Regions from separate parts of the Homo sapiens genome. Here all the other regions are linked to region 4. The links come from fine-mapping of genetic effects on gene expression. A gene starts in region 4. Each other region holds a variant in brackets. All regions are shown on one strand. Distances are between the middles of the regions. Region 1 has its middle 61 kb from the start of DNAJB6. Region 2 overlaps UBE3C (ubiquitin protein ligase E3C). Region 3 has its middle 59 kb from the start of MNX1-AS1. Region 4 holds the start of UBE3C (ubiquitin protein ligase E3C). Region 5 overlaps UBE3C (ubiquitin protein ligase E3C). Region 6 overlaps UBE3C (ubiquitin protein ligase E3C). Region 7 overlaps UBE3C (ubiquitin protein ligase E3C).

Evidence for each region.
Region 1: its variant is fine-mapped to the expression of UBE3C in whole blood (INTERVAL, PIP 0.90).
Region 2: its variant is fine-mapped to the expression of UBE3C in whole blood (TOPMed, PIP above 0.99).
Region 3: its variant is fine-mapped to the expression of UBE3C in whole blood (INTERVAL, PIP above 0.99).
Region 5: its variant is fine-mapped to the expression of UBE3C in testis (GTEx, PIP 0.96).
Region 6: its variant is fine-mapped to the expression of UBE3C in whole blood (TOPMed, PIP above 0.99).
Region 7: its variant is fine-mapped to the expression of UBE3C in whole blood (INTERVAL, PIP above 0.99).

What each region holds. Positions count from the first base shown.
Region 1 is chr7:157,273,981-157,278,509 of GRCh38, reverse strand. No RefSeq gene overlaps it. Among named protein-coding and RNA genes, the nearest start is that of DNAJB6, 61 kb to the left of the region's middle. The variant C/T (reference allele first, on the strand shown) is at 2,165.
Region 2 is chr7:157,240,279-157,244,807 of GRCh38, reverse strand. All of the region lies in intron 18 of UBE3C (ubiquitin protein ligase E3C), which reads right to left. Among named protein-coding and RNA genes, the nearest start is that of DNAJB6, 94 kb to the left of the region's middle. The variant C/T (reference allele first, on the strand shown) is at 2,037.
Region 3 is chr7:157,067,450-157,071,978 of GRCh38, reverse strand. No RefSeq gene overlaps it. Among named protein-coding and RNA genes, the nearest start is that of MNX1-AS1, 59 kb to the right of the region's middle. The variant T/C (reference allele first, on the strand shown) is at 2,094.
Region 4 is chr7:157,136,806-157,141,334 of GRCh38, reverse strand. UBE3C (ubiquitin protein ligase E3C) reads right to left here and starts at 2,409. Exons shown (of 23, transcript NM_014671.3): 1 at 1,997-2,409. The coding sequence starts at 2,062. RefSeq lists silencers at 1,778-1,847, 1,898-2,287, 2,568-2,917.
Region 5 is chr7:157,264,751-157,269,279 of GRCh38, reverse strand. It overlaps UBE3C (ubiquitin protein ligase E3C), which reads right to left. Exons shown (of 23, transcript NM_014671.3): 23 at 1-1,695. The coding sequence ends at 1,525. Among named protein-coding and RNA genes, the nearest start is that of DNAJB6, 70 kb to the left of the region's middle. The variant T/C (reference allele first, on the strand shown) is at 1,997.
Region 6 is chr7:157,217,231-157,221,759 of GRCh38, reverse strand. It overlaps UBE3C (ubiquitin protein ligase E3C), which reads right to left. Exons shown (of 23, transcript NM_014671.3): 15 at 984-1,071. Among named protein-coding and RNA genes, the nearest start is that of UBE3C, 81 kb to the right of the region's middle. The variant A/G (reference allele first, on the strand shown) is at 2,518.
Region 7 is chr7:157,165,032-157,169,560 of GRCh38, reverse strand. It overlaps UBE3C (ubiquitin protein ligase E3C), which reads right to left. Exons shown (of 23, transcript NM_014671.3): 3 at 439-513. Among named protein-coding and RNA genes, the nearest start is that of UBE3C, 28 kb to the right of the region's middle. The variant C/AACC (reference allele first, on the strand shown) is at 2,620.

The DNA.
Region 1 (4,529 bases), 140 kb before region 4:
AACAGGAGCTTCCACCCACACGAGGGTTCCCTGCTTCCCCTGGAGGGGGGGCGGGCATCTGAGTTGGATGGGAGCTGACAGCGTCAAGATGGGCCCAGGCTGCCCATCTGGGGGTGGCCTGGCTGTGGGGCTAGGGTGGTGGCCCTGGTGTGGTGCCCACCTGTGGGCCTGTCTGTCTGGGACAGAGCCTCTGACATCCCTGCAGATCCCTTGCACTGTCTGAGGGTGCGCCCCCACCCTAGGCTCTGCCCTTCCCTGAATGAGACTCCAGGCACCCACCTGAGGGTAAGCAGCTTCCCCAGGTGACCTAAGCCAGTGACAGCCCTCATTCAAGGGTCCCCTAAGGCAAGTGTTTTGTCCTTGTCTCCTGTCCCCAAAGGCTCCTGCACACTGGAAGCCCATGGCAGCTCAAGGGGTGACCTGGGGAGGGGGACACCATCGCCCCTCACCCTTTCAGGAGTAAATCAAGTCCCCATCCCCCTGTGAAAAGCAATTCCAGGCCCCTAGAAACCTCCTTGAAAAGAAGTCACTTCGGCTCAGTATGGTGGCTCACACCTGTCATCCCAACACTTTGGGAGGCCAAGGCGGGCAGATCACTTGAGGTCAGGAGTTCAAGACCAGCCTGGGCAACATGGTGAAACCCCGTCTCTACAAAAAATGCAAAAATTAGCTGGGCACGGTGACACGCACCTGTCATCCCAGCTATTCGGGGGGCGGAGACAGGAACATCGCTTGAGTCCAGGAGATGGAGGTTGCAGTGAGCCCAGATCGCACCACTGCACTCCAGACTGGGCGACAGAGGGAGACCCTGTGTCAAAAAATAAAACAAAATAAAAATAAAGGAGGTCACTTAACACATTCCTTGGGGGGCCACCAAGCACTGGGCAGAGCGAAAGTCCAGCGGTCTCGCTGCTCTGTATGTGGCAACCTGCACTCAACACTCATCACTAGAAAATGAAATGAAAAAACTCAGACACACAGCACAGATGCCCAGATCTTTTGATATTAGATTCAACAGACATGGAATTACTGAGCATGACAGACGCTCACTTTCCATTCTGTGCAGACGATGGCACAGATGGGCAGCCGGCCAAGGACTGCCCCCAGCAGCCCGGCAAGGGGAGGGGAGAGGAGACACAGCCTCTTCCTCAATGTGTGTGCCTTCCGGGGATCCAGGGCCCAGAGCCGGCCATGAGTGGCTGCAGGAGGTGGGGGGTGGGCAGCGCCTGCGAAGGAGCCCACACCCGGGGGAAGGACAGGCACCAGGAGGACACACGGGAGCCTGGCTGGAGGAACGGGAGCGCCGGTGTGGGGAGACGCAGAAAGGAGTTGCTCAGAAACTGAGGCCATTAGGACCATCCGAAGTCAACAGACTCTGCCCGGTTCTCCCCTGCTTGCCTCAGAGGCTGAGGCCCCAGACTGAACGGGGGACGGTCTCCCCAGTAGACAGGGGTGATTCCTGCAGTGGGTGATGCTGCCCCGTTAGACAAATGGTCCCCCCAGTAGACGGGGGATAGCCCTGAAGCAGGGAGTGGATGGCCCCACACTGCTACAGCGAAACAGTCCCCCCAGTAGACAGGGGAGGCTCCCTCCAGGGGGACTTCTCTCCTGTGAGTTTTCAGTGTTGACTTCATTGTATCCAGGAAGCAATGACCACATTCTGAGTGAATTTATCAGGCACTTCCTGCCTCATCAGTCCTTGTTGTGACCAGCCTTCCTTTCATGGTGTCTTAGGTGGCTGTCTTAGTAATGTTGGGACTCTGAAGATGGATCAAGGTGTCTTTCCTCCTTGAATGATAGTCCAAGATGTTGGATGGGTCTTAGGTGAGGAGCTGGCTGGGTGTCAGGGCACAGGGTGGTAAGGGTGGCTGGGAGTCCTGGCCTTGCCCTTGTCACCCCATTTAGGAGCCTCAGCAAGACCAGGCGGGGGCAATAGAGAGGGGGCAGGAGGCCTTGGACCTGGGCCTGTCTGTTCATCCCTTACTTGGTGCAGAACATCTGCTGGGGCCCCTCACATCTGTGGGGTCTGGATGTGAACATAATGTGTGAACCTTACCTGGCCGCGGGCACCACAGTCTGAGCTGCAGGTGACAGCCCCAGATGCGGCGGATCAGGAAACAGGTCCCACACTGGGGTCCCAGCTGGGCAGGTGGAGAACCGGCTC[C/T]CTCTGCCTGCCCCGCAGTGGCCAGGGCCTGTGCTCACACACACATCATTGCTGCACGGGGACTGTGCAAGGACGCCTTCTGCTGCAGAACAGGAAACTGCCCCCTGAATCTGCAGACCCTGGCAAGGCCCCTACGGCCACCGCGGTCAGCCCCGGAGAGAGGAGAGGGGCCTCGGTGGCAGCACAGGCCCACCAGGGTGTCCCTAGGGCTGAGGTCTCTGGTCCCAGGGGCCCCTGAGTAGGGGAGGGGGGCGAGGGTGCTGCAGGGAGGGGAGGCCCCTGCAGATCCATGTGGGCCCCACCTCAAAGGAAGGGATCCTTCGACTGGGGGTCCTGGGGGAAGATAAAGACCGCCCCAGGCCCATTCTTTCTGAACTGGAAGCCTCAGCAAAGGTAAGAATGAAATAAGGTAAATACACCCCCAAATTAGAAAATTCCAAGCTTCTTCAAATGGGTTTGACAGAATTTCCAACTCCAGTCTTTCCTCTGAACTAGGCAGTGTTCCCCAAAAATGTAACTCGGCCTGCTGGTGACCAGAAGCCTAACCAACTGGTGACATCAACAGTGGTTAGCACATGGTTTCTATGTTACGTATCATATGCTGTATTCTTACAATAAAGTGGGCTAGAGGAGGAAGGGCAGGCGGAAGGCGAGGTGAGAGGCTGGCCTCTCAATAGAGGGCAGCTTTCATGGAAAACCACCCATGTAGCCGGGCGCGGTGGCTCCCGCCTGTAATCCCAGCACTTTGGGAGGCCGAGACGGGTGGATCACAAGGTCAGGAGATCGAGACCATCCTGGCTAACACGGTGAAACCCCGTCTCTACTAAAAATACAAAAAAATTAGCCAGGCGTGGTGGTGGGCGCCTGCAGTCCCAGCTACTCGGGAGGCTGGGACTCCATCTCAAAAAAAAAAAAAAAAAAAAAAAGAAAAAGAAAAAAAAAGAAACCCACCCACGCTTTGGTGGACCTGCACAGCTCAGACCGTGTTACGCAAGGGCCAGCTGTGTACAGTTTCCTATTTCTAAGTATATTCACAAGATTGTGCAGCCACCACCACCAATTCCAGAACATTCTCGTCAGCCCCCAAAGAAGCCCTGTACCCATCAGCTGTCAGTGCCCGTCTCTTCCCTCCTAAGCCCTAACAAGCACCAGTCTGCACCCCGCCTCTGGGGATGTGCCTGTGCTGGACACTTCAGGTCAAGGAGTCACCCAGCATGTGTCCTTTTGTATCTAACGTCCCTGAGGCGCACCCATGCTGCTGTGTATCACACTTCCTTTTACTTACTATTATTATTATTTTTGAGACAGAGTCTCAATCTGTCGCCCAGGCTCGAGTGCAGTGGCGCAATCTCGGTTCACTGCAAGCTCCGCCTCCTGGGTTCACACCATTCTCCTGCCTCAGCCTCCTGAGTAGCTGGGGCTACAGGCGCCCGCCACCACGCCCGGCTAATTGTTTTTGTATTTTTAGTAGAGACGGGGTTTCACCGTGTTAGCCAGGATGGTCTTGATCTCCTGACCTCGTGATCTGCCCGCCTCGGCCTCCAAAAGTGCTGGGATTACAGGCGTGAGCCACCGCGCCTGGCCCACACTTCTTTTTACGACCAAGTCCTATTCCACTGCACAGAGGGACCACATAATGTTTATTCCTTCCTCAGCTGATGAACACTTGTGTGTTTCCATCCTTTGGCGATCGTGAATAAGGCAGCTATGAACATTTGTGTACAAGTCTGTGTGTGGACAAAGGTTTTCACTTTTCTTTGAGACAGAGTTTCACACTGTGGCCGGTTGGAGTGCAGTGGTGCCATTCATAGCTCACTGCAGCCTCGACCTCCTGGGTTCAAGCGATCCTCCTGCCTCTGCCTCCAGAGTAGCTGAGACCACAGGCGTGCACCAACCATGCCCTGCTAACCTTTTTATTTTTTGTAGAGATGGGGTTTTGCCATGTTGCCCAGGCTGGTCTCAAACTCCTGGCCTCAAGCGATCCACCTGCCTTGGCCTCCCAAAGTGCTGGGATTACAGACATGAGCTCGGGTGCCTGGCCAGGTTTCCCTTCTCTACTGTAAACCTAGTAGAAACTGCTGGCTTGCTGCTGTGTGTGTAACATTTGAGGAACTAAGGCAATGGGATGTTAAACTTTAACATTTCTGCTGGGCACAGTGGCTCACGCCTGTAATCCCAGCACTTCGGGAGGCCAAGGTGGGCGGATCGCCTGAGGTCAGGAGTTTGGGACCACCCTGGCCAACATGGCAAAATCCTGTCTCTATTAAAAATACAAAATTAGCTGGGCGTGGTGGCGGGTGCCTGTAATCCCAGCTATGTGGGAGGCTGAGGCAGGAGAATTGCTTGAACCCAGGAAGCAGAGGTT
Region 2 (4,529 bases), 100 kb before region 4:
TTTTATGAATGTTTATAGCTAGAAATTGTGCCAAAATGATTTGAAATAAAAAGGATTAATTATAGTAGAAGCCTTTTAATATAAGTGAGTGCAGTCGCGACGCAATTAATGCAAATTGTGGCTCTATCAGAATAAATGTGAACCACATCACAGACCATTTCTGTTTGCCGCCAAATAACTTCAGTAATTTACTACATTAAGAATCAATAAAAAAATAATGCTTTTCAAATGCATCTCTATCAATCTTCAGGCAGCTCTAAAGTGAACATTTATAACTTAATCTAAAAACTATATAAGAGATGATGTCTTGCTTTAAAGCCATCCTAACTGAGCAAGCAGATAATTTTAATTATTTCATATCATATTAACCATATAATTTAAAAAACAAAAAAGAAACATAAAATAAGAATGTATACTAATAGCAACACGCTATTTAATAATTGTGCTTCAGAATTAGTAAGTTGGAATTGAAAAACAAAGTCCCTTCAGTCACTGGGACCACTAGGGGCTTGTGTAACTAACTCTAAACTCCTAGGGGGCAGGAGATATACCTCATCTTTCTTTCTTTTTTTTCGAGACGGAGTTTCACTCTATCGCCCAGGCTGGAGCGCAATGAATGGCACGATCTCAGCTCACTGCAACCTCCGCCTCCTGGGTTCAAGCGATTCTCCTGCCTCAGCCTCGCGAGCAGCTGGGATTACAAGTGCGCATACCATGCCCAGCAAATTTTTGTATTTTTAGTAGAGACAGGGTTTCCCCACGTTGGCCAGGATTGTCTTGAACTCCTGACCTCAGGTGATCACCCGCCTCGGCCTCCCAAAGTGCTGGGATTACAGGTGTGAGCCACCGCGCCTGGCAACATACCTCATCTTTAATGCAAGAGTCCAAATACAACATATGGTGCCCATTCATGTAACAAACATTTATTAAGTGCCAACTATATGTCAGGGACCACATTACATACTGGAATTCTGCATTCATGAATCTGTTTGCAAAAAAACCCTTTCATTCTTGTGTTAAGAGTTTTCGGATTGTGGGTTTCAGGTTATGTATACGTCAACACCCATTTCAAGTCCTAGATCTTCACAATCCTATTCCAGAGAGCTTTCTACACCATCAACTCCCGCAACACTTGGTCTACACAGCTACCCTGGCACTAAAAAATCCGTGTTGTCCCAGTGTCCCCTGCGCCTCACATGCAGGAACAGCAGCAGGAGGACACCAAGCTCCCTGGGAGGGGCCAGGCCGTGGGCCTCACTCTAATACTCCACTGGCAGGTGCCCTAAAGCCAATCTCTAAACGTGAGCTGAGGTGAACTCACTCCTCATTCAGCAGATGTCTACCACGGATAACTGAGCAGAGCCCACTAGCTGTTACTCAGAGAAAAAGAGCAACTCTGCCTTGCAAATCCTGAACCACCACACCAGGACACGGGTGCTGCACTCTTACTTCTCTACAGAGGCTGCCCAAATCCCCAGCATGCAGAGCTGCCGAGGCCTCACAGTGCTCGTACCTTTTCTTCCTTGAGACCCTGGCACTCCATAAAGACAAGGAAAGCCTGCAGAGATTGCCCTTCTCATCTCCAACTCGGCTTTCACTTCGGAAGCCCTGCAGGGCACAGAGGATGGGGGATGGGGACCGTGGAGGACACGTGCACATCTCCTGTCCTATTTTCCTCATAGTGGCTTCCAGCGATCGAGCCACAATATGATACATTTTGAGCAGCTTGGAGTTGACGCTTCCTTTTTTTTTTGAGATGGAGTTTCCCTCTTTCACCCAGGCTGGAGAGCAGTGGCACAATCTTGGCTCACCATAATCTCTGCCTTCCGGTTTCAAGCGATTTTCCTACCTCAGCCTCCCAAGTAGCTGGAATTAGAGGCAACCACCACCACGCCCAGCTTATTTTTGTATTTTGAGTAGAGACGGGGTTTCACCATGTTGGTCAGGCTGGTCTAGAACTCCTGACCTCGTGATTCTCCCGCCTTGGCCTCCCAAAGTGCTGGGATTACAGGCTTGAGCCACCAGACCTGGCTCGA[C/T]CCTTCCTTTTTTTCCTCGACTTCTAGTTCTATGGCTTCCAGGTTCAGGCTCCAAAACACAGAAACCCCTGACCCTGCTCACCAAAATATTTCTAGAAGATAAAAAACATCTTCATGAACAAGGAAGTTCGCTAAAGTAGCAAACCCATATTCCCACTTCCACTGACAAGAAGCAAACATCTGAGCATCTGAGGACAGTTTTACACTCCTGCTTCTGAAAGACAGTAGGAATTTAAAAAAAAAAAAAAAAAAAAAAACAACTCAGGCTCAGTCTCAAGGTACCCCACATAACCAAGAACTATTTTCAACAATTAGAAGAAAACATCTTTCAAGTTTCAAAATTCTACTTTTGCCATATAGGAGAATAAAATATCAGACTAGAAATCTGTCGAGCCACCTCTTGAGAAATTTGAGGACAATGATGCCTTCGATGATAACAGATTTCGTTACCATCAGGTACTATGTTTCCCTAACAACAGCTCATGCTCTAATCACTATACTCCTTCCAGCTTTAGAACGAAAGCATCCATGAACTCCGATTGATACTGACTGCTGCTTTCTCTAACTTCTGTGACACTGGCTCTCTCAGTCACCACGTTACCTACCGCACGATTCCTTTGTAACAGCTTTACTGGGATATCACCCACATAACTTACATTCAAAGGTTTTATTATATTCGTAAAGTTGTATGACCATCGCCACAATCAATTTCTGAAGATTTTCATTATTCTAAAAAGAAACTCCACATCCCTCAGCTGCCACTCCTGGTTCCTCCCAGCCCTGGCGATCACTCACCCACCTTCTGTCTCTAGATTTTCCTGTTTTGGACATTTCATATAAATGGAACCATGTCTTTGGTGATCTCTGCATCTGCTCTCACCGGGCAGAACATTCTCAAGGCACATCCATGTGTGCCATGTGTCAGTGCTTTACCCCTTTTTACGGCCCAGTAATAGTCCACTGTATGGATGAACCGTATTCTGTTTACCCGTTTGTCAGCTGATGGGCCTTTGAGTCATTTCCATCTTTTAGCTATTAGGAATAATGCTGTTGTGAGAATTTGTGTGCAAGTTTTTGGGTAAATATGTTTGCTGGGTCCAAAGGTAATTAACCTTTTGAGGAACTGCTAAACTTTTCCAAAGTGGCTGCACCATTTTATCTTCCCATTGGCAATGCATGAGGACTGATTCCTCCACATCCTCACCAACCCTGCGGTTCCTGGTTTGATTCCCGCCGTACTCGCGGGTGTGCGCGGCAGCCTGTGGCTATGCTTTGCCCTTCCTTGATGACTAGTGATGCTGGCCATCTTTGCACGAACCAATGGCCCATTTGCTTGCTGCCAGTCCCTGGAGAGATGTCCAATTGGATCCTTCGCCCATTTTTATCATGGAGTCCTTCATATATATGCCACAAGTATCTTCTCTTTCAGTGTGTTGTATTTTCAGTTTCTTGATGGTGTCTTTTGAAGCATAAACATTTTTAAGTCCAGTTCATTTTTCCTTTTGTTTTTTGTGCTCCTGGTCTCACAGCTAAGACGGGATTTTTTCCTGACTATGCTGCGACACTCAGCAGTCCATTTTCCCACATGCCCTGCAGCGCTCTGTGATCCTCAGAGCACTCTGCGTGAGTAGCTGTGGTCTCTTTTGCACCCTTGAACCACCGGGCACAGAAGGGAGGTAGGCCCCCTGTGCTCCTTACTGCCACTTCCAGACCATCCTTCCCTTCCCTCCCGCTAAAATCCCTGGCTTTCAATCTCATGCACTGGGCTTGCGCATCCATTACCTCTCCCGGGTTCAGTCACTGCCCCTTAATTCAAGATTTTAGCTCCTGAGAGTCCAACACACTCTGGTGATAATTTTTGGTGACATCTGTAGCACACAGTTGACTGTCATTCTACCATCCTGGCTGTCCCTCAACTCCACCTTAGCTACCAGTTCCTTCAGCTCTGTCCTCCAAGTGGCATTACCGGTAACTAAGCCCCTCTGATCTTAGCTCTAACCACCGCTACACTGACTCCCTGAAGGACCTCGACTCCACAGGTCTCCTCTCCTGTCCAGCTTCCCTTGCCCTCAAATCTCCATTCACGGATTAATTTCCTCTCTAAACAGCCTAGATTCAAAGGCAGGCTCTTGTAACCACTCTGAACTTGCAACCAATTCACCCTTTATTATAGTCACTTGGCAAAAAACCCCACCCCTGGTTAAATCTGACTCTACATCCTAGTCAGACCCACACAGCCGTTTACGGGTGTAGAAAAAGTAACCCACACGGCTGGTCTCACTTCACTTTATGATATTAACGTCAAGTGGGCCCTACACTAACTGGCAATCCTATTGTATTTCCATTGTCCAGTAATTCTCAAATTTCAGCATGCATCAGAGTCACACTTATTAATTGAAGCCTATTCACAGCTTGCTGGCCGGGTGCTATGGCTCACACCCATAATCCCAGCACTTTGGGAGGCTGAGGTGGGCGGATCACTTGAGGCCAGGA
Region 3 (4,529 bases), 69 kb after region 4:
CTACTATGGCTACCCAGAACCAAAGGCAAAGTACCTTACCCAATTGACACCACTGGACACATCTACAGGAAAAATCTTTCCTTACAAAAGCTACTCCATTAAAGTTGGAAGAAGTGGCTGTTCCACCAGATGTGCAGATATCAACATAGGGACACAAGAAACCTGAAAAAGCAAGGAAACAGAATATCTTCAAAGGAACACAATAATCCTCTAGTAACTGACTTCAAAGAAAAAGAAATCTATAAAATGCCTGGAAAGGAATTCAAAACAATCATCTTAAGGAAACTCAGCAAGATTTAACAGAACACGGATGATTCAACAGAAGCAGGAAAAGAATTCATAATTTGAATGAGAAATTTAACAAAAAGTTATCATGAAAAGGAATGAAATGGAACTCCTGGCACTGAAAGAAAAAATACAATTGAGGGCTTCAGCAATAGACTAGATCAAGAAGAAATAACTTCTGAACTTCAAGACAGATCTTTTGAAATAATCCAGTTAGATAAGAAAAAAGAATGAAAAAAACCTACAGGACATACGGGACACCATTAAGTGAAAAAGTGTTTCCATTATGGGAGTTCCACAGGAGAAGAGATAGGAAAAACAAATTAAATAATAACTGAAAATCTCCAAAATCATAGGAGAGGTATGGACATCCAAATACAGGAAATTCAAAATTTCCTATACAGGAAATTCAAAATTTTCTATACAGGTTCAACCCAAAAATGCCTTCTCCAAGCCTCACTATTATCTAACTGTCAAAAGTCAAAGACAGAGAAAAGACAATGCAAGGAAAAATGCATTAAGTCAGATATAAGGAAACCTCCATCAGACTAACAGCAGATTTCTCAGTAGCAGCCTTACAGGCCAGGTAAGAATGGGATGATTTATTCAAAGTGCTGAGTATATATTTTTAATATATATTGACAGCTTGGGTGCAGTGCCTCATGCCTATAATCCCAGCACTTTAGGAGGCTGAGGAGGGCAGATCACCCGAGGTCAGGAATTCGAGATCAGCCTGGCCACCATGGTGAAACACCAACTCTACCAAAAATACAAAAAATTAGCTGAGCGTGGTGGCATGTGCCTGTAGTCCCAGCTACTAGGGAGGCTGAGGCCAGAGAATTGCTTGAGCCTGGGAGGTGGAGGTTGCAGTGAGCCGAGATCGTGCCACTGCACTCCAGCTTGGGCAACAGAGTGAGACTCCATCTCAAATAAATAAATAAATAAATAAATAAATAAATAAATAAATACTGACAGATTAATATGTCAATTTCAATGACAATTATCAAAATTATCAGTTAAGAATACTATACCTAACAAATCTTAACTTTTTTTTTTTTTTTTTTTTTTTTTTGAGATGGAGTCTCACTCTATTGCCCAGGCTGGAGTGCTGTGGTGCAATCTTGGCTCATTGCAAGTGCTGCCTCCTGGGTTCACGCCATTCTCCTGCCTCAGCCTCCCGAGTAGCTGGGACTACAGGCGCCCACCACCACGCTCAGCTAATTTTTTGGATTTTTAGTAGAGATGGGGTTTCACCGTGTTAGCCAGGATGGTCTCGATCTCCTGACCTCATGATCCACCCGCCTCGGCCTCACGAAGTGCTGGGATTACAGGCGTGAGCCATCGCGCCCGGTCACAAATCTTAACTTTCAAAAACGAAAGAGAAAGTCTTCCCCAGATAAGCAAAAGCTGAGGGAATTCATCACCACTAGACTGATCCTACAATAAATGCTTAAGAGAGTCCTACATCTGGAAACACAAGGAAAATACCTACCATCATGAAAACATATAAAACTCACAAGTAAAGCAGATACACACGTGAGAAAGATAAAAGAATCAAATAATTTCACTACAGAAAAACATCAAATTGCAAAGATAACCAATAAGAGAGGAAAAAAGGAAGAAAAGTATACAAAACAACCAGGAAACAGTTGACAAAATGACAGGAGTAAGTCCTCATCTATCAATAACAACTTTAAATATAAACAATTTAAATCCCCCAAGTAAAAGATATAGATTGGGTGACGGATAGAAAAATAAGATTCAACTATAGCTGCCTACAAGAAACTCATTTCACCTGTAAAGACACA[T/C]ATGGACTGAAGGTGAAGGATGAAAAAATATATTCCATGCACACAAAAACTAAAAGCTAGCATGAATAGCTACACTTATTTTGGAAAAAATAGTCTTTAAGTAAAAAATGTAAAAAGAGACAAGGAAGGTCATTATACAATGATAAAGGGATTAATTCAGTAAAAGGATATAACAGTTATAAATATATATTTACACCTAACACCAGGGCACCCAGATATATAAAGCCAATATTATTAGCGCTAAAGGAAGAAATAGACCCCAATATAATAATAGTTGGGGATTTTAACACCCTACTATCACCATTGGTCAGATTGTGTAGACAGAAAGTCATCAAAGAAACATCAGAGTTAAACCCATTTAGACCAAATGGATCTAACAGACATTTACAGAACATTTCATCCAATAGCTGCAGAATACACATTCTTCTAATCAGCACATGGGACATTCTCCAGGATAGATTATATGATAGGCCACAAAACAAGTCTCAACAAATTTTTAAAAATCAAAACTGTATCAAGTATCTTTTCAGACACAATGGAATACAACTAGAAATCAGTAACAAAAGGATTTTTGGAAATGATACAAATATATGGAAATTAAATAACCTGCTCCTCAATGACCAATGCATCTATGATGAAATTAAGAAGAAAATTTAAAAATTCCTTAAAACAATGAAGATAGATACACAGCATACCAAATATGTACGGGATACAGAAAAAGCAATACTAAGAGGGAAGTTTATAGCAATAAATGCCTACATCAAAAATGGAGAAAGGTTTCAAATAAACAACCTAGCAATTCACCTTAAGGAACTAGAAAAACAAGAACAAATGAAACCCCAAATTAGTAGAAGGAAAGAAATAATTAAGATCAGAATAGGCTGGGCATGGTGGCTCACGCCTATAATCCAAGCACTTTGGGAGGCCAAGGTGGGTGGATCACCTGAAGGTGAGGAGTTCAAGACCAGCCTAGGCAACATAGAAAAACCCTGTCTCTACTAAAAATACAAAAATTAGCTGGGCATGGTGGTGGATGCCTGTACTCCCAGCTACATGGGAGACTGAGGCGGAGGTTGCAGTGAGCTGAGATAGTGCCATTGCACTCCAGCCTGGGCAACAGAGTGAGACTCTGTTTCCAAAAAAAAGATCAGAATAGAACTAAACAAAATAGAGACAAAAATACAAAATATCAATGAAATGAAAAGTTGGCTTTTTGAAAAGATAAACAAAATTGACAAGCTATTAGCTAGACAAACTAAGAAAAAAGAGAAGACAAACAAAATCAGAAACAAAAAAGGAGATATTACAACTGATATTACAGAAATGCTAAGAATTATTAGAGACTATTATGAATAACTATATGCCAACAAATGGGAAAACCTAGAGGAAAGGGATAAACTCCTGGACACATACAACCTACCAAGATTGAACCAGGAAGCAACAGAAAGCCTGAACAGATAAATAATGAGTATCATGATTGAATCAGTATTGAAAAGCCTCCCAATGACGACAACAACAAAAAGCCCGGGACTGGGTGGCTTCGCTGCTGAATTCTACCAATTTTTTTTTTTTTTTTCTGGGAGACAGGGACTCTCTCTGTTATTCAGGCTGGAGTGCAATGGCATGATCATAGCTCACTGAAGCCTCAAACCCCTGGGTCCAAGCATTCCTCCCACCTTAGCTTCCCAAGTAGCTGGAACTACAGGAGTGCACCACCACATCCAGCTAATTTTTTTAAATTATTTTTTTGTAGCCAGGCATGGTGGCTCACGCCTGTAATCCCAGTACTTTGGGAGGCTGAAGCGGGTGGATCACCTGAGGTCAGGAGTTTGAGACCAGCCTGACCAACATGGAGAAACCCCATCTCTACTAAAAATACAAAATTAGCCAGGTGTGGTGGCGGGCGCCTGTAATCCCAGCTACTCAGGAGGCTGAGGCAGGAGAATCACTTGAACTTGGGAGACAGAGGTTGCAGTAAGCAGAGATCGCGCCATTGCACTCCAGCCTGGGCAACAAGAGCAAAACTCCATCTCAAAAAAAAAAAAATGATTTTTTTTTAGAGACAGGGCCTCCCTGTGTTTCCCAGGTTGGTCTTGAACTCCTGACCTTAAGTAATCCTCTCATTTCGGCCTCCCAAACTGTTGGGATTACAGGCATGAGCCATCACACCAGCATATCAAACTTTTCTGGAAGAACTAACACCAATTTCTCAAACTACTCCAAAAAATTGAAGAGGAGGAAATTATTCCTGACTACCTCTACGAAGCTAGCATTATCCTGATACCAAAACCACACAAGGACACACCCTCAAAAAAGAAAACTATGGGCCAATATCCCTGACAAACATAGGTACAAAAATTTTCAACAAAATACTAGCAAACCAAACACAAAGATTATATTATGATTGAGTGGAATTTATCCCAGGAATGAAAGGAT
Region 4 (4,529 bases):
GCCTCTGGAATGCTGGGGATGGTCTTCCTTTGATGTGAGTGGTGTTCCATCTACAGGAGAGTGTCCATATGCAAAAATCCTTCAAGCTGTACATACAGCTGGCTCCCCACCCAGATTCCTTAACCAGGCCAGGGCACCCATGCCCCAGCTGCTGCCAGTTCCTACTAAGGGCTCTTTACTGCCACTCTCTCCCAGAAGAATGGCCCTCGGCTCAGGGTTAGCAGTGCCACACTCCCACCCTCATCCCGGAGGGGCAGCAGCCTGCAGCCACCAACCCCTCTGCCGCAATTAGGGCCAATTGTAGCATGCTCCTGGTGAGATGGGGTTAACGCTAGCCTCCAGCTGAGACGCCTTTTCCTTCCCTACCCAGCTTCCCTCTCGCCCTTCCTCCTCAATTTCACTTGCACAAGGATCTCTTTAGTGTTTGTGAACCTGACTGTATCTTAAGTTATACCTCAATAAAAAGAGTTTTGTTTTTAAAGGGGTGATTCTTTTACACAGCTCGTGCTATCTTCCCTTGAGATTCTGATCAACAGTTAAGAAATCTCACTCCCTCAGAGCAGAGATGCACTCCTTGGTGAAAAGGGACCAACATCCGTGGCCCGTGGGGTGTTCCTGCCTGCAACAGAGGCCGCGCGGCGCTGTGTAAATGGCATGGAGTCTCAGATGGTCTGCCACTAGCTTGCTGTGTGAATGGGCACTCCTTCAAATGTTCTGCAGCTCACCTTCCGAACTTGTAAGCAAGGCGATTTGGCCCTGAGATTCTCTGAAGTCTCTCCTAACTGTAGAAATCCTTTGATCTCATAAAACATTTTCATTAACGTGGAAGACCCTAAGTGCTACCACGACCACCCTTAACTGCACAGTACTTAGTTCTGGAGCACAAGTGACTTCCAAGCAATCACCATCACACGAACCTCAAAGCTGAAAAATTATCAGCACACTTCTCTCCCAACTCTTTACCCAGGTTCCCTTCTAACCTCAGAAACCACCAAACACAGCCCCACAGCACAATCTTAATAACAGCAGTTCCTCCTTGGCCTGCCAGCACCCACTCTGCGTTATGTGCCTACCTGGTGGTTGTGATATACAGAATATACTGATAGACAAGAAAAACTAGGTGAAGCATTTTAAAGAACATTTCAGAAATGATGGGAAGGGGTGGGAAGGGAGGGGCGGGAACAAGACCACACAGTGTTCAACGACTTAGCGGTTCCAGTGAACCAACTGATGCCCGTCTTCAGGGACAGACAGCTAGAAATTCTAGACTAGAACAGAGGCGTCATGGTTTGCCTACCCTTATCCTAAACAATTACCATGCGAACAACTTAATGTCGATCACAACAGATGTAAGTCCGGAGTCTCTCCACAGTTTCCAGGAGGCTGGTGGCAAATAATTGCCCTCGTCTTGGATTCAAACACGTGGCTATTCATGAGACGTTCTGCCTCTACTTTAGAGATTATCGACATCAGCAAATGCGTGCCGTTCACCTTCTACAACCGAAAACGCCCTTCAGGTGGCATTCGAAAAGCAGCCACTCCCTGATGCCATGCGGGAGCGAGCATGGAAAGCGCATTTCTGAAAGGAAACACCCAGAAAGGGTAAGTTCACCTTGGGTGGCACAAAGCGTGCCAGGGTTCACCGGCCTCCTGCATGGAAGGGAGCCACGGCCAGCGCGCCCGGGTCCCGAAGCGCAGTGGACAGGCAAGGCCCCCACGGGCGCGGCCTCGAGTTCCAGCCAGGGAGGCCCCGAGTCCAGTCCTAAGCCCCAGCCAGAGTCCTGGCCCCAAGTCTCGGCTCCGAGTCCAACCCCGAGTCCCGGCCGGAGCGGCCCCGAGATCCGGCGAGGAAGCCCCGAGTCCCCGCCAGGGAGGCCCCGAATCCAGCCCCAAGTCTCGGCCCCGAGTCCAGCCCCGAGTCCAGCCCCGAGTCCCAGCCCCGAGCCCCGGCCGCGCAGGCCCCGAGCCGAGGGCGCCCCGCCAGCCCGGCCCTCACCTTCCTGCTCGCGCCGCCAAGGGACACCTTGGGCCGCGTCTTGAAGTCGCCTTCGAAGCTGAACATCCTGGCAGCCTAGCCCATGTGCGGGCAGCGCCGCCGCGGAAGCAGCCGGGCGGGCGGGGCACGGGGCGGGCTGGGAGGCTCTCGGCGCCCGCCCGCCCGGCCCGGGGCAGCGAGGACGCGGCGGCCGGGAGGCGACCCGAGCCCGCCCCCGGGCTGTACCCTCCCAGCCCTGCCCTGGGGCGGGAGGGGCGGCAATACTGGAGGGGCGGCCCTGCCTCGCCTGCCCCTCATCCACGCCGGCCACAGCTCGGGCCGCTGCAGGGGCGCCCAGCGGGCAGCAAACCCGGCGCTTGCACCTGGAACTGCCGCCTCGGGAGGGAAGATGGCGGTCAGCCGTCAGTGCGTGCGCGGCCCTGCAGACGTGCGCGGCCCTGCAGACGTGCGCGGCCCTGCAGACGTGCGCGGCCCTGCAGACGTGCGCGGCCCTGCAGACGTGCGCGGCCCTGCAGACGTGCGCGGCCCTGCAGACGTGCGCGCCTCCGCCATTGACGGCACGGCGCTCTTCCCGGCGGTTCCGCTAGCGTGCGCGGCCCCGCAAGGCGCGCTGGAGCCTGGGGAGGACGGCGGTGACGCGGGCTGGGCACGCGGCGGAGTGGGCGGGGCCTGGTGCGTGCTGGGGGAGCGCGGCGAGGGGCGCGGGAGGTGTTGGGTGCGGGGCAGGGTGCGGGAAAGGTGGAGTGCGAGGCACGGGCCGGGATGGGGTGCAGGGCAGGGTGCGGGGTGCAGGGTGGGGTGCAGGGGCCGGCACCCGGAGCGGGCTGGGAGCGGCCAATCTGGTGCCAGACTCGAGTGAGGCGGGAAAGGAGCAGCTAGGCCCAGCCCGTCTGTTTACATCCCACCTGTTCTATGTCTATGACACGCACAGACGGACGTAAATATTTACCATGTACACAGACATGCGCAGATTTGCCTCATACATAGCACACATATGCATCTATAGATACAGCATCAATACATATAAATATGTATCATGTACACATACCTGTGTATGCAAAAATATTTGCTCCTGGACTTACCATGGGGCTTTGTCCTGATAAACCCATCGTAAGATGAAAATATTGTAAGTTGAAAATGTATTTAATGCTACAATAAACCCATCACAAAGTCAAAAAATTGTAAGTTGAGCCATTTTAAGTTGGGGACCACCTATACATAAACATGTGTCTTATATCCACACATACGTATACATAATATCTCATATACATGTGCATATACATATATATCATACACGATTGAAACCAATTTCTAAAAATTGATTTTTGGTTGTATACAAGGTGTGCAACATGATGATTTCATAGAGACATTGTGAAATGACTACCCTCTTTGTGTGTGTGTGGTAAGAGTACATAAAATCTACTCTCTTAGCAAAATTTCAACACACAATACGATATCATCTACAGTCGTCCTGCGGCCGAGCACGGTCGCTCACGCCGGTAATCCCAGCACTCTGGGAGGCCAAGGCGGGCGGATCACCTGAAGTGAAAAGTTCGAGACCAGCCTGGCCAACATGGTGAAACCCCATCTCTAATAAAATACAAAACTTAGGCCGGTGTGGTGGTGCACGCCTGTAGTCCAAGCTACTCTGGAGGCTAAGGCAGGAGAATTGCTTGAACCCAGGAGGCAGAGGTTGCAGTGAGCTGAGATCGTGTTATTGCACTCCGGCCTGGGCGACACAGAGACTCCGTCTCAAAAAAAAAAAAAAAAAAAGAAATACAGTCCTGGCGCCGCCTGTAATCCCAGCACTTTGGGAGGCTAAGGTGGGTGGATCACCTCAGGTCAGGAGTTTGAGACCAGCCTCGCCAACATGGGGAAACCCCGTCTCTACTAAAAGTACAAAAATTAGCTGAGCATGGTGGCATGTTTATGTATAGGTGGTCCCCCACTTAAAGTTCTTAAACTTCTAGCTGCTTGGGAGGCTGAGACAAGAGACTCGCTTGTGTCTGCGAGGCGGAGGTTGCAATGAGCTGAGATCGTGCCACTGTACTCCAGCCTGGGTGACAGAGTGAGACTCTGTCTCAAAAAATAAAAATAAACAGGCCGGGCGCGGTGGCTCACGCCTGTAATCCCAGCACTTTGGGAGGCCGAGGCGGGCAGATCACGAGGTCAGGAGATCGAGACCATCCTGGCTAACACAGTGAAACCCCGTCTCTACTAAAAATACCAAAAAAATTAGCCAGGCATAGTGGCAGGCGCCTGTAGTCCCAGCTACTTGGGAGGCTGAGGCAGGAGAATGGCGTGAACCCGGGAGGCGGAGCTTGCAGTGAGCCGAGATCGCGCCACTCGCGCCACTGCACTCCAGCCTGGGGAACAGAGGGAGACTCCGTCTCAAAATAAATAAATAAAAATAAAAATTAATAACAATAATAATAAACAGTCCTCCTGTGAACATTAGATCTGTGGGCATATTTATGCTACATAACTGCGAGTGTGTTTCCTTTTACATATCTCTCCCCATTTTTCCCAGCCC
Region 5 (4,529 bases), 130 kb before region 4:
TAAGTGAATTGTCAATTTCTCTTCAGTCTCAGATATGCTATTTCCAAAATACTAATAAAATATACAAATTAACTAATAAGATATAGAACATTCAACATAAAACAACCTAAAATAAAAAAGACCAACCCTAATTATTTTATTTCTGTATATCAAGACTACAAATAGCATTTAAACGCTTAATTTATTATTCAAATTAAGAAATTATACATTTTGTTTTGATAATGTTCATTGTCTTAAAAGTGTCATTCAGCTTTCCCACTTTAAAAGTATATTGCTAATTATGGTCAATTAACTATGACAGCCCACAGAGCCTCCAGTGACAGTAAAATACGAGACATAGAAGAGATAAATGAGGATTTAGATCCCCTCCCCCCAGCATCAGCAAAGGGTCACTCTGCTCCCACAGCTGACGCTTTGAAACGCTTTCTGTTTGTAGAGACTAAAATCACCCAGCAACAGGTCAGGTCCTGATAAAGTGCCTACTGCAAGAACTACCGACACTCCTCTTCCCTGGATGTGCACCAGGGACTGTCCCGTCTTCGAGTCAGAGCAGCACCAGGAAGCAGAGGGTGCCAAGCATGGCGAGTCACCCCCAAATATCCAGGAAGACAAGTGGGCGCAGCCCAGGGGAAAGGAGGGCGAGCGGATGATGGGAGACCGGCACGGCTAGCATCGGGACAAAGATGCAGCCGCCACTTTGGTTCAAACAACTTTAATGACACCACAGTGTCTGTCCTCCCCCAAGTAACTGGGTATAGTGGGTGACAGATGTTGCAGTAGCTTGGCAGACCCTCCTCCTCCACCTCCCCTGAAAGCTCTCCAGGCACAAAGTGGAGATAGAAATAGGACAATGAATGAAGTCCCCACCTCACATCCACAGACAGTATCTCCAAACCATCATGAGGCAGGCCACGGTATACTGAAAACAAGCATGCTAGTCCCATTTGGGGAAATGGCTTAAAAAGCACAAATAAAATATTACCATCATCATCTCTTTTCCAAACCTAACCACTTTGGGAAAGGCAGCAGAAAAAAAAAATGCCTTCAGTTTTAATAATGAGGCTTGTAAACAATCCAACCACATAAGCAGCAGCGGCCCCATGGCGTCTCAGCCCTCAGACCCTGTATCTCTGCCGCCTGTGCAGCCCTGTCTGAACCCTGGAGTGGCGCTGCCTGCTCAGGAGGGCTCTGATCTCACCAGCAAAGCCAAAGCTTCATCTTTGGTTAATTTCACTGAGATGCCACTAGTGTAAAAACTGTGCTCTTCTTGGCAATATTACTAAAGTAGCCACATGGCACATAACGTGTTATTTTAAGTTATTTGAAAAGCAATGTCCATCTAAATAAGTGACCACACCGTAATAAAAATCATTTAAAAAAGGAAGGGAGGGAGGAATGGCAGAATGAAAGAAGGAGCTTAGGAGAGCCTCAGGCGTGCAGTGTGAGTATCCTCGTGGGTCTGGGGAGGCGCTGCTGACGAAGGAAGCACTGGTTCTCTGTAGGGGTCTGACCCCAGCATCAGCTTCAGCTCAGCTCAAAGCCAGCGGCACATTCAATCGCATAGAGAAGTTTACTTCGCAAAAGTGTCTCGTCATAGAACTCGGGGAGCTTCAGCAGGTTCATGCAGGTGCTGGCTGTGGGGAGCCGCTCAAGGTCGGAGCCTCCGTTGTGAATACAAAATGCGGGATACAACTCCTGAAAAACAGCATGTGTGCAAGATGTCACTGTAACAAGCATGGCATTACATGAGTTTTAATACAAAGTACACAAAATGTGCCTGCTCCAATCAGTAAAGTTACCATTGCAGTCACATTTTCCCGAAACCACATTTGCTTTGTTGTTGTTGTTTGTTTTCTTTGAGATGGAGTCTAGCTCTGTCGCCCAGGCTGGAGGGCAATGGCGCCATCTCAGCTCACTGCAACCTCTGCCTCCCAGGTTCAAGCGATTCTCCTGCCTCAGTCTCCCAAGTAGCTGGGATTACAGGTGCCTGCCACCA[T/C]GCCTGGCTAATTTTTGGATTTTTCCTAGATAAGGGGTTTCACCACGTTGGCCAGGATGGTCTTGAACTCCTGACTTTGTGATCTGCCCACCTCTGCCTCCCAAAGTGCTGGGATTACAGGCGTGAGCCACCGTGCCTGGCCCACATTTGCTTTTTTAAAAAATTACATTGATGGCTTAGTTCTAACTTACATAAAAGATTATGCACTGTGCTTCAGGCATAAAAAGGGATAAATAACATTCCAGGCCAGGCGCATAGCTCACACCTGTAGTCCCAGCACTTTGGGAGGCCTAGCTGGGGGATGGCTTGAGCTTAGGAGTTCGAGACCAGCCTGGGCAACATAACGAGACCTCATTTCCACTAAAAATAAAAATCAAAACAATTAGCCAGGTGTGGTGGTCTGCCCCTATACTCCCAGCTACTTGGGAGGCTGAGGTGAAAAGATGTCTTGAGCCCAGGAGGTCGAGGTTAGTGAGGTATGATCACACCACTGCACTCCAGCCTGGGCAACACACAGTGAGACCCTGTCTATAAAAATTTTTTAAAAAGGATCAAGATTTATTCTATCTTTCCTGTACAAGCTATTACTCGGGTTAACCAAATCATTGGTGAGAAGAAACAAAGCTGTTTTTAAATAGAAAATTCCAGCTAATAAATTATACAATTATGTAATTAGAACACGGCTGTTTTAGAAGCACATTAAACAATGGATCTAGGCAGTGATAAGTGACCACTAAAATCAAGAGGAATTCTGACGCAGAGATCGATCCCAGCATTGTGGGGAGATGACTCACGAGAAGTGGATCTCCACGATGATTAAGGGAATGGGAAGCATACGACATTACCTATGTGATGTTATTGCCAAAAAAAGAAAAATTCAAATTTAGAATCTGATGAGACCTCTATCAGTTTTCAAGAGATACAAAGAAGCAACCCAGTTACCCTATTATTTTTATTTATTTATTTTTTTGAGACGGAGTCTTGCTCTGTCACCCAGGCTGGAGTGCAGTGGTGCAATCTCGGCTTACTGCAACATCCGCCTCCCGGGTTCACGCCATTCTCCTGCCTCAGCCTCCCGCATAGCTTGGACTACAGGCTCCCGCCACCACGCCCGGCTAATTTTTTGTATTTTTAGTAGAGACGGGGTTTCACCATGTTAGCCAGGATGATCTCGATCTCCTGACCTCGTGATCCACCCGCCTCAGCCTCCCAAAGTGCTGGGATTACAGGCGTGAGCCACCGTGCCCGGCCCCAGTTCCCCTATTCATTAAATTACAAGACGAAATTGAGGGAGGTAGAACATCTATAGACCAAATGCATGATGAAAAGTGGCTTGCTTGTGCCAGAATTTAAATAATTGTTAACAAAAAAGAAAGATGATCAGGGAAATTTGAATATTGTTTTTCAGATGTGTTCATGACGTTCTGGTATTTAAAGGTACAGTGTGAAAATTCTCATCCCTGTATCACAGATACCCAGTTCCCATTCCCACTGGCAACCAACGCTTCAGCGTCTTAAGTGCTCCCAGAGATGAAATGCACGCATGAGAAAATGTTCTCCCTCCTTTAGGTTTAAAATTGAGACGGTGAGCACATTGGACACAGTATTCCGTGCCGTGCTTTTCTCATCTGATAATGGGTCTCGCTCATCTTGCCTATTAATGGTGAGGCTATATGGTGTTCCATGCACACGCGCGGCACGACGTGTTGCTGGGCACTTCTCTCAGCTTTTTACAAAAAATGATGCAATGAATACGTACCTGGTTTTCACAGTTGTGCAAATGTATCTGTAGGCAAAAACCGTGTTAGGGATTGCTCAACGCAGACTTAATGCATGAGACCTATGGGCGTGTCGGTCCTCTGATGGCCACGAAGAACCGGTGACTCCACCTTCCTCGTATACACAAACACCATTAGCTATTTGCCTCACATTTGAGATACGTGATTTATGTGTTCTCTTCCAACAGGAAGACAATAAGGCACAGATCGCCCTCAGTCTGCTCACTGTCGCAGCCTGTGCAGATTTAGTATCTGGCACGGGTTTCAGAGACCTAGCTAGGTCAGCCCTTCCCTGCACACGTGTACACGAAACTCTCTGAGAGGTGGGCCTGGCAGCAGGAGCAGGGGCTTCACCCACATTCACAACTCCTGGGACTGTACTCTAAGAAATAATTAGAGATGCACATGATAATTTATGCACAAGAGGTTCACAGCATCACAACGAAGGAAGAGCTGTAAACAACTAAAAAACAGAAAGTAAACTGGTAAATCACATGATGGGACACTACAAGCCCATTAAAAATATCTCAAAGAATAACATGAGGAAAAATGATCCTGATGTAATGTTGAGTGAAAAAGGTAGCCTAGAAAACTGAACACAAGATACAGCTAAAATTATATTTAAAAATTACGTGACCAGGAGCAGTGGCTCATGACTGTAATCCCAGCATTTTGGGAGGCCACAACGGGTGGATCACCTGAGGTCAGGATTTCTGAGACCAGCCTGACCAACATGGCGAAACCCCATCTCTACT
Region 6 (4,529 bases), 80 kb before region 4:
ATGGCCAAATTTTTTTTTTTTAGACAGTCTTATACTGTCACCCAGGCTGGAGTGCAGTGGTGTGATCTTGGTTCACTGCAACCTCCACCTCCTGGGTTCAAGCGATTCTCCTGCCTCAGCCTCCCAAGTAGCTGAGATTACAGGTGCCCGCCACTACGCTCAGCTAGTTTTTTGTATTTTTAGTAGAGACGGGGTTTCACTATGTTGGTCAGGCTGGTCTTGAACTCCTGACCTGATGATCCGCCCACCTCGGCCTCCTAAAGTGCTGGGGATTACAGGCGAGAGCCACCACGCCTGGCCCATAGAATTTTTTTTTTTTAAATGACAACTGTAAGTGCTGATGAGGACTGGGAACAACAGAGGCTCTCATTCATTGCTGGTCTGAATGCAAAGCCGTGCAGCCACCCTGGAACACAGTTCTGCAGCTTCTCATCAAGTTAAACATAAACTTGCCAAATGTCTCAGGATTCTTACTCCCAGTGAAACTTACTCCATGTCAAACAAAATGTATGTTCACAGAAAAACCTGTACATAGATGTTTATAGCAGCTGTACTCGTATTCCCAGAGACAGAAAAAATAACCAAATGTCTTTCAACCAATGAATGGATTCACAAACTGTGGTGCATCCCCACACTGGAATACTGCTGAGCAACAGAGGGAACAATCAACCCACACAGCACCCTCAAATGCAGCGTGCTGACCAAAAGGAGCCAGGAGCAGACTACACAGCATGGTTCCCTTTGGAGGCCTTTTGCAAAAGGCAAAGTGACAGGACAAAACAGAAATGGGTGGCTGCTGAAGAGGTGGCCGCAATGGAGCTAGAGGCAATTTTGTGGGTGATGAAACTTTTCTACATGGTAGCTCCTGCTGGGAGTGACATGGCTGTATAAGTTTATGAAAAATAACAGATCTGTAGATTAAAGGAGTGAATTTGACAGCATGTAATTCATACCTCAGTAACCCTGTGTCCTAGAGAACTCACCGTCCAGGGTGGACTGCAGCGGGCCTATCCTCCCCATCCGCCGGAACCTCCACACATGTCTGGATGCTGGCACATAGAGCTGAGTGACCTGTCGGGGGCAATCCTGGTTCAGAACTCCCCTGTGCTCTAGCACACACTTTGACCTGATCACACTTGAACAGAATTGGTGCTGGACATTTCTCTACCGTGGGCTGGGCCCTCTCTCTGACCTCATACCTTCATGTCCCCTTTTGCTTTACCTTTTCAGGTCCTCTCTCATGCTAGCTGTCCTTTCATACTTTTACAGTTAACTATGTTTTCTAATATGCCCCAAAGAAATCTCTAATTGTTTTATTTGATGGTGCATAATATCTAAACATAGTAAAATAATATAATTGCTTTATGAAGCAAAATAGATCACTTTAAAAATTAAGTTATTATTATCAAAAATTCACTTTCTAGTTTTTTTTTCAATTTGGTTGAGGCAGTATTCAAATAAAACAGACACAGTATATTTTCTCAAGTTATTTTTCATCTGTCAGTTCCTCTCATCCCTTATTTTTGGTCCTTACAATTTTTTATTTTTTGATACACGGTCTCACTCTGTCACCCAGGCTGGAATGCAGTGGTGCGACCTCAGCCCACTGCGACCTCCACCTTCTGGTTTCAAGCGATCCTCCCACCTCAGCCTCCTGAGTAGCTGGGACTACAGGTGTATACCATCACGCCTGGTTAATTTTTGTACTTTTTGTAGAGATGGGGTTTTGCTATCTTGCCCAGACTGGTCTTGAACTCCTGAGCTTAAGCAAGCCACCTGCCTCAGCATCCCAAAGTGCCCGGGTCACAGGCGTGAGCCACCACACCCGGCTGGCCCTTGCAATTTTTTTTTTTTTTTTAGATGGAGTCTCATTCACTCTGTTACCCAGGATAAAGTGCAGTGGCCTGATCTTGGCTCACTGCAACCTCTGCCTCCCAGGTTCAAGGGATTCTCCTGCCTCAGGCTCCCAAGTAGCTGGGATTACAGGCACATGCCACTATGCCTGGCTAACTTTTGTATTTTTAGCAGAGATGGGGTTTCACCATGTTGGCCAGGGTGGTCTCGAACTGACCTCAGGTGATCCACATACTTCGGTCTCCCAAAGTGCTGGGATTACAGATGTGAGCCTCCGTGCCCAGCCACCCTTGCAATTTTTAATGAAGAAACTTTCATCCTGTAAAATTTCCCATAATCTAGATTTTGCTAATTGCACCCTCATGGTGTTGTTAAAGATGTACTTCTAACCCCTATGTTTCCTGTAATTTTGTAGTTAGATGTAGAGGTTCCACCACATTTAGATTTAACTTTCTGGCGAGAACGTTTCCTAGGTGGTGTGGGATGCTCGATCACTGAGAGGCCCCATCTCTGCTTTTCACTGCAGAAGTGAAACCTACTTCAAGTGTGGGTGTGTGCACCGTACTACCAGCTGGTGATGAGATAAGGGACTTGTGCCAAAATATAAATCAATTAAATCACTAAGCACACTGCTGGGTTCAGCTGACATTTTCCCATCGCACA[A/G]CTTTCTGGAGTAAGGAAGAGGTGCAGCTATTTGCATTCTGGGACCAGACCCTCCTCTCCTGGGAGGCCAACACACCATCTCAGACCAGCAGACCCTAGACATGCGCTGCACCTGGAGTGGCACCGCCCTGGTCATCTCCTTCACCAGAGCCTGCAACAGGCTGATTCTAGTTTGCAAAAATCCTTTTCATGTAGTATTGGCTGGAATACTTCTATGCAAAAGATCACACACTATCTGTTTTGCCTGAGGTACAGTTTATAAATGAAAGGTGGGTTAAATGCTTGAGTACTTCTTTTTTTCAAAACAGCATTCAAAATAATGAGATGGTTCCTTTGCATCCTACAAATATGATGACGAAGGGTTTTGTTAGCACCCTTGCGAACTCAGAGTTAGCTGTTTTCATGAATGCTTCAAGTTTCTGCCCATGACCAGCTAGAGACAGGCTCCTAACCCTGTCTCCCAGCCCCAGCCACCCTGCAATAGCTTCCTCGCTCTCCAGCATGACAGAGCACTCCACACCCATCTTGCAGGGTCTTCCCCAGACCTGGAGCCAAGCACCCTGCCAGGACTGCTTCTTTTGCTGTGAAGCAACCCCAGCCTGGGCCCCAGAACTGTTCACTGCTGGGGGATCTGCCACCATTGCTCTACCTTGTCAGTGGGCAGAGTTAGATGCAACAGGCTTAACTCACAAATATCTTATGAGGACATAGTCATGCTTATAAAATTGTTCTGAAACACTCCTGTTTTCTCTCCTCGAATATTTCTGTGACATGGTTTTTTTTTTTTATTTTTTGAGACGGAATCTTGCTCTGTCGCCCAGGCTGGAGTGCAGTGGCGTGATCTCAGCTTACTGCAACCTCCGCATCCCAGGTTCAAGCGATTCTCCTGCCTCAGCCTCAGTCCCAAGTAGCTGGGACTATAGGCGCACACCACCGTGCCTGGCTAATTTTTTTATTTTAGTAGAGACTGGGTTTGACCATGTTGCCCAGGCTGGTCGCAAACTCCTAAGCTCAGGCAATCCACTTGCCTTGGCCTCCCAAAGTGCTGGGATTACAGGCATGAGCCACCGCGCCCAGCCGACATGGTTTCTTTTATACCCTCCACCACTCCATCTCCTACTCCCAAGATTCTGAAATGAATCCAGTTACGACTTTTTCTCAAGAACTGAAAATACCTTATGTCCCTCTGTTAACATCACTTATATTTTTTGTTTTTTCTGGAGACAGAATCTCGCTCTGTCACCCAGGCTGCAGTGCAGTGGCACGATCTTGGCTCACTGCAACCTCCGCCTCCAGGGCACAAGGGATTCTCATACCTTAGCCTCCTGAGTAGCTGGGACTACAGGGGGACACTTACCATGCCCGGCTAATATTTGTATTTTCTTTCATTTTTCTTTCTTTTTTTGAGACGGAATTTCGCTCTTATCACCCAGGCTGGAGTGCAATGGCACAGTCTCAGCTCACTGCAACCTCTGTCTCCCAGGTTCAAGTGATTCTCCTGCCTTAGCCTCCCGAGTAGCTGGGATTACAGGCGTCTGCCACCACGCCCGGCTGATTTTTGTATTTTCAATAGAGATACAGGGTTTCGCCATGTTGGCCAGGCTGGTCTCAAACTCCTGGCTTTAAGTGATCTGCCCGTCGGCTTCCCCAAGTGCTGGGATTACAGGCGTGAGCCACCGCGCCTGGCCACTTAAATTTTTTACTAACGTATCATACTACTGAATCTGCTTTAGATGTAGGTATTAGTAATATTCAAATTTGTCTCTGTTCTTTTAGAAAATCAAGGATAAAGGACTGGTGTGGTGGCTTACGTCTGTAATCCCAGCACTTTGGGAGGCCAAGGTAGGAAGATCACTTCAGGCTGGGAGTTTGAGACCACCACGGGCAAACATAGCAAGATTCCGTCTCAAAAAAAAAAAATCACAAAAATTAGGTATAAGATCTATCTCTTTTAAATACTAGACATATATTAATACTAATAAAAGCAAAATATTTTTCAACCTCACAAAGAA
Region 7 (4,529 bases), 28 kb before region 4:
CTACTAACAATACAAAAATCAGCTGCACGTGGTGGCACATGCCTGTAATCCCAGCTACTCGGGAGGCTGAGGCAGTAGAATTGCTTGAACCCAGGAGGTAGAGGTTGCAGTGAGCCGAGATCATGCCACTGCACTCTGGCCTGGGCAACAGAGTGAGACTCAGTCTCAATTTAAAAAAAAAAAAAAAGGATCTCTCATGACTTCCTTCTATTTTGATTTTCAACTGTGGTGAGGCCCATGTTTGTATTTTATTATTTAAAAATTACCTAAAAACTCACCTATCTATAAATCTTCACAATAATTAGAACAAATAAAATTATTTATTGGGAAGAATACTACTGTCAGCATTGACTTCAATTAACAAGGTGTACAAAGATACCATATTTAAAATAAGCTCTCCCATGCCCTACTAATCTCCTCATTTTAAAACAAACTTACTTGCTGTTTTCTGTCTCTATAGCCTCGAATAAATGACTGGATAATTATTGCATTTTTCAACCTTCGCCTTTCTTCCTAAACAATAAAAGGAGGAGTGAGGGAGCAATTGGTCAGAATCCAGTGAAAATGACATTTTGCTAGTAAAGACTTTAAAAACACTAACAGCTATGTAATTCACATACCATAAAATTCATTCTTTAAAAGGTAACACCCACTAAATATGCATTTAATATATTAAGAGCTATGCAACCATCACCACTGATCTTAGAATACCTTCATCACCACAACCAGAAGCCCCGTCTCCATTCGCAGTCACCCCCCGTTTCCTGCCGTCCCTTCTCTTGCCCCTGGCAATCACTCATCTACTTCTATCTTATGGATGTGCTTATTCTGGACACTTCATATAATGGAATCATACAATATGCTGTGTCTGGTTTTCTTCACTTAGCATGATGTTTTCAAGATCCACCTATGTTACAGCATATGTGAGAACTTCATTCCTTTTTAAGGCTAAGTAAGAGTAATGTTCCATTGTATGGATGGACCACGTTGAATTCCTCCATTCATCTACTGATGGACATCTGGGCTGCTCCCACTTTGGTCTATTATGAATTAAGGCTGCTATGAACATTCATATATAAGTTTTGTTGTGGATACAGGTTTTCATTTCTCTTGAGCATAAACCTAGAAGTAGAGTTATCATTGAGGAATTGCCACACTGTTTTCCAAAATGGCAATACCATTTTACAATCTCACCAGCATAGTAGGACCTTTTTTTTTTTTTTTTTGAGACAGAGTCTTGCTCTGTCGCCCACTTGATCTCAGCTCACTGCAAGCTCCGCCTCCTGGGTTCACACCATTCTCCTGCCTCAGCCTCCCGAGTAGCTGGGACTACAGGTACCCGCCACCACACCTGGCTAATTTTTTGTATATTTAGTAGAGACGGGGTTTCACCATGTTAGCCAGGATGGTCTCGATCTCCTGACCTCATGATCCTCCAGCCCTGGCCTCCCAAAATGCTGAGATTACAGGCATGAGCCACCGTGCCCGGCTAGCAGGACTTTTTAAAGTTTTAAATATTAAAGGAATACAAGCAGACAACACCAGCATCTATTTTAAAGGTCACTTTCTTGTTTCAAGAGAAAATTCCAATTTTCATTGACTTGAGAGTATCTTTAAAATGTTCAGCGACCTGGCAAAAATATGCGTTCTTCATCATTGTTATGACCAGTGCTACTGCTGTTGGACAGCCTACTACTATGTGCCAGCCCTATGAGAGGCACTTTAGGCCAGGCATGGTGGCTCATGCCTGTAATCCCAGCACTTTGGGAGGCCGAGGCAGGAGGATCACAAGGTCAGGAGATCGAGACCATCCTGGTTAAAATGGTGAAACCATACCTCTTCTAAAAATACAAAAAATTAGCCGGGCATGGTGGCGGGTGCCTATAGTCCCAGCTACCAGGAGGCAGAGGCAGGAGAATGGCGTGAACCCGGGAGGTGGAGCTTGCAGTGAGCCGAGATCGCGCCACTGCATTCCAGCCTGGGTGACAGAGTGAGACTCCGTCTCAAAAAAAAAAAGAAAAGAGAGAGAGAGAGGCATTTTATATACAAATGCACAGTCATCTTACAGGTGAGCATCACTTCCAGTTTAAAGATGCAGAAACTGAGACTGCTATAAAAATTAAGCAACACCCAAAGATGTAAAGCAGAATTCAAACTCAGGTATGATAATAAAGCCTGTACTCCATCTCACCATACTACCTTGTTTCATGTCTTCTATGAATGCCATCTACAAAGCTGAGACTAACACACACACTGTGGGATTCAAGAACACCATCAGGTCATGTAGATGTAGTTCCTGGGCTTGAAATGGTTATAAAAAAATCCTGTGAGGTCGGGCATGGTGGCTCATGCCTGTAAACCCAGCACTGTGGGAGGCTGAGGTGGGCAGATCACTTGAGGTCAGGAGTCCCAGACCAGCCTGGCCAACATGGTGAAACTCCATCTCTACTAAAAATACAAAAAATTAGCTGGGCATGGTGGTGCACGCCTGTAATCCCAGCTACTTGGGAGGCTGAGGCAGGAGAATCACTTGAAGCCAGGAGGTGGAGGTTGCAGTGAGCTGAGATCATGTCACTGCACTCCAGCCTGGGTGACAGAGCAAGACTTTGTCTCAAAAAC[C/AACC]ACCACCACCACCACCACCACCACCACCAACAGGAAAAAGCGACTTTCACCAGATGCACATGGCAATGTAAGGATGCTGGAAACATGAAAAAACAAGGAAATACGACATCTCCAAAGGAATACAATAATTCTCCAACAATAGATTTTAATCAAATAGAAATTTTGAAAATCTCAAATAATTCAAAATATTGATTTTTTTTTTTTTTTTTGAGACGGAGTTTCACTCCAGGCTGGAGTGCAACAGCGTGATCTCAGCTCACCACAACCTCCGCCTCCCGAGTTCAAGCAATTCTCCTGCCTCAGGCTCCCGAGGAGCTGGGATTACAGGCATGCGCCAGCATGCCTGGGTAATTTTGTATTTTTAGTAGAGATGGGGTTTCTTCATGTTGGTCAGGCTGGTCTCGAACTCCCAACCTCAGGTGATCGGCCTGCCTCGGCCTCCCAAAGTGCTGAGAATACAGGCGTGAGCCATCGCGCCCAGCCCTCAAAATATTGATTTTAAAGCTCAGTGAGATACAAGGGAATTCTGAAAAATACAAAGAAGTCAGAAAAATAATTCAGGATATAAGTGAGCAACTTACCAAAGAGTAAGTATTTTTAAAAAGAATCAACTAGAAATTCTGGAAGTGAAGAATTCATTTAAAGAAATACAAAATACATTTGAAAGCTTCAAGACAGACTAATCAGGCAAAAGAAAGCATCTCAGAACTTGAAGACAGGTCTTTTGAAATAATCCAGCCAGACAAAAATACAGAAAAAAGAATGAGCAAAGCATTCATGACATTTGGGATAACATAAAGCAATAAAATATTCAAAGTATTGGTAACACCAAGGTCAAAGAGTCAAAGAAAGGATTAGGAAACCTATTTAATGAAATAATAGATGAAAACTTCCTGTCTCACAAGAGATTTAGACACCTACATACAGCAGACTCAACGATCTCCAAGCAAATAATCAGACTATCTAAAGTCAAAGATAAAGACTGAATTCTAAAAGCATCAAAAGAAAAGCAGCTAGTCACCTATAAAGGAAACCCCATCAGATTAAAAATCAAGAAGACAAACAATAGAAACAAACCCCACGGAAGATCCAATTACTGGAGTTTAAACATTGTCTTAAAAAATCTATAATTATGTTCAAGAAATTAAAAGAGAACTAAAGACTATATAAAAGAATGAAAGAAAATTCTAGAACTGAAATAACAAAAACTGAAATTACGAAGTCAATGGATGTATTTAACAATTAGGCAGCAGGGTGGCTCACGCCTGTAATCCCAGCACTTTGGGAAGCTGAGACAGGCAGATCACTTGAGGTTAGGAGTTCAAGACTAGCCTGCCCAACATGGCAAAACCCCATCTCTACTAAAAATACAAAAAATTAGCTGGGTGCGGTGGCGTGCACCTGTAGTCCCAGCTACTCGGGAGGCTGAGGCAGGAGAATCGCTTGAACCTGGAAGGCGGAGGTTGCAGTGAGCTGAGATCGTGCCACTGCAGTCCAGCCCGGTTGACAAAGTGAGACTCCACCTCAAAAAAAAAAAAAAAAAAGTCAATGCTAAAGAGATCAGCTGTAAATCAGAAATTAGGTCAGGTGAAAATATCCAAACTGAAGCAGAGATATTCAAAAGGATAAACACAGAGAAAAGCACATGAGGGAAATATGGGAAACGACGCAAAGGTCAAAAACATTTACAGTTTGCGTCCAAGTAGGAGAGGAGGAGAAGAATGAAGCAAAAGCACTAATGGAAGAGATAATGGCCGAGAATTTTCCATAAAACAAGATTAAAAACACCAACCAACAAATATCTTTCTTGGTTGAGCAGTGCCCTCCCTGGGACATTTGGTAGTTTCTGGTGACATTTTTGGTTGTCACAACTGAGGTAACGGAGTGCTACTGGCATTTAGTGGGTAGAG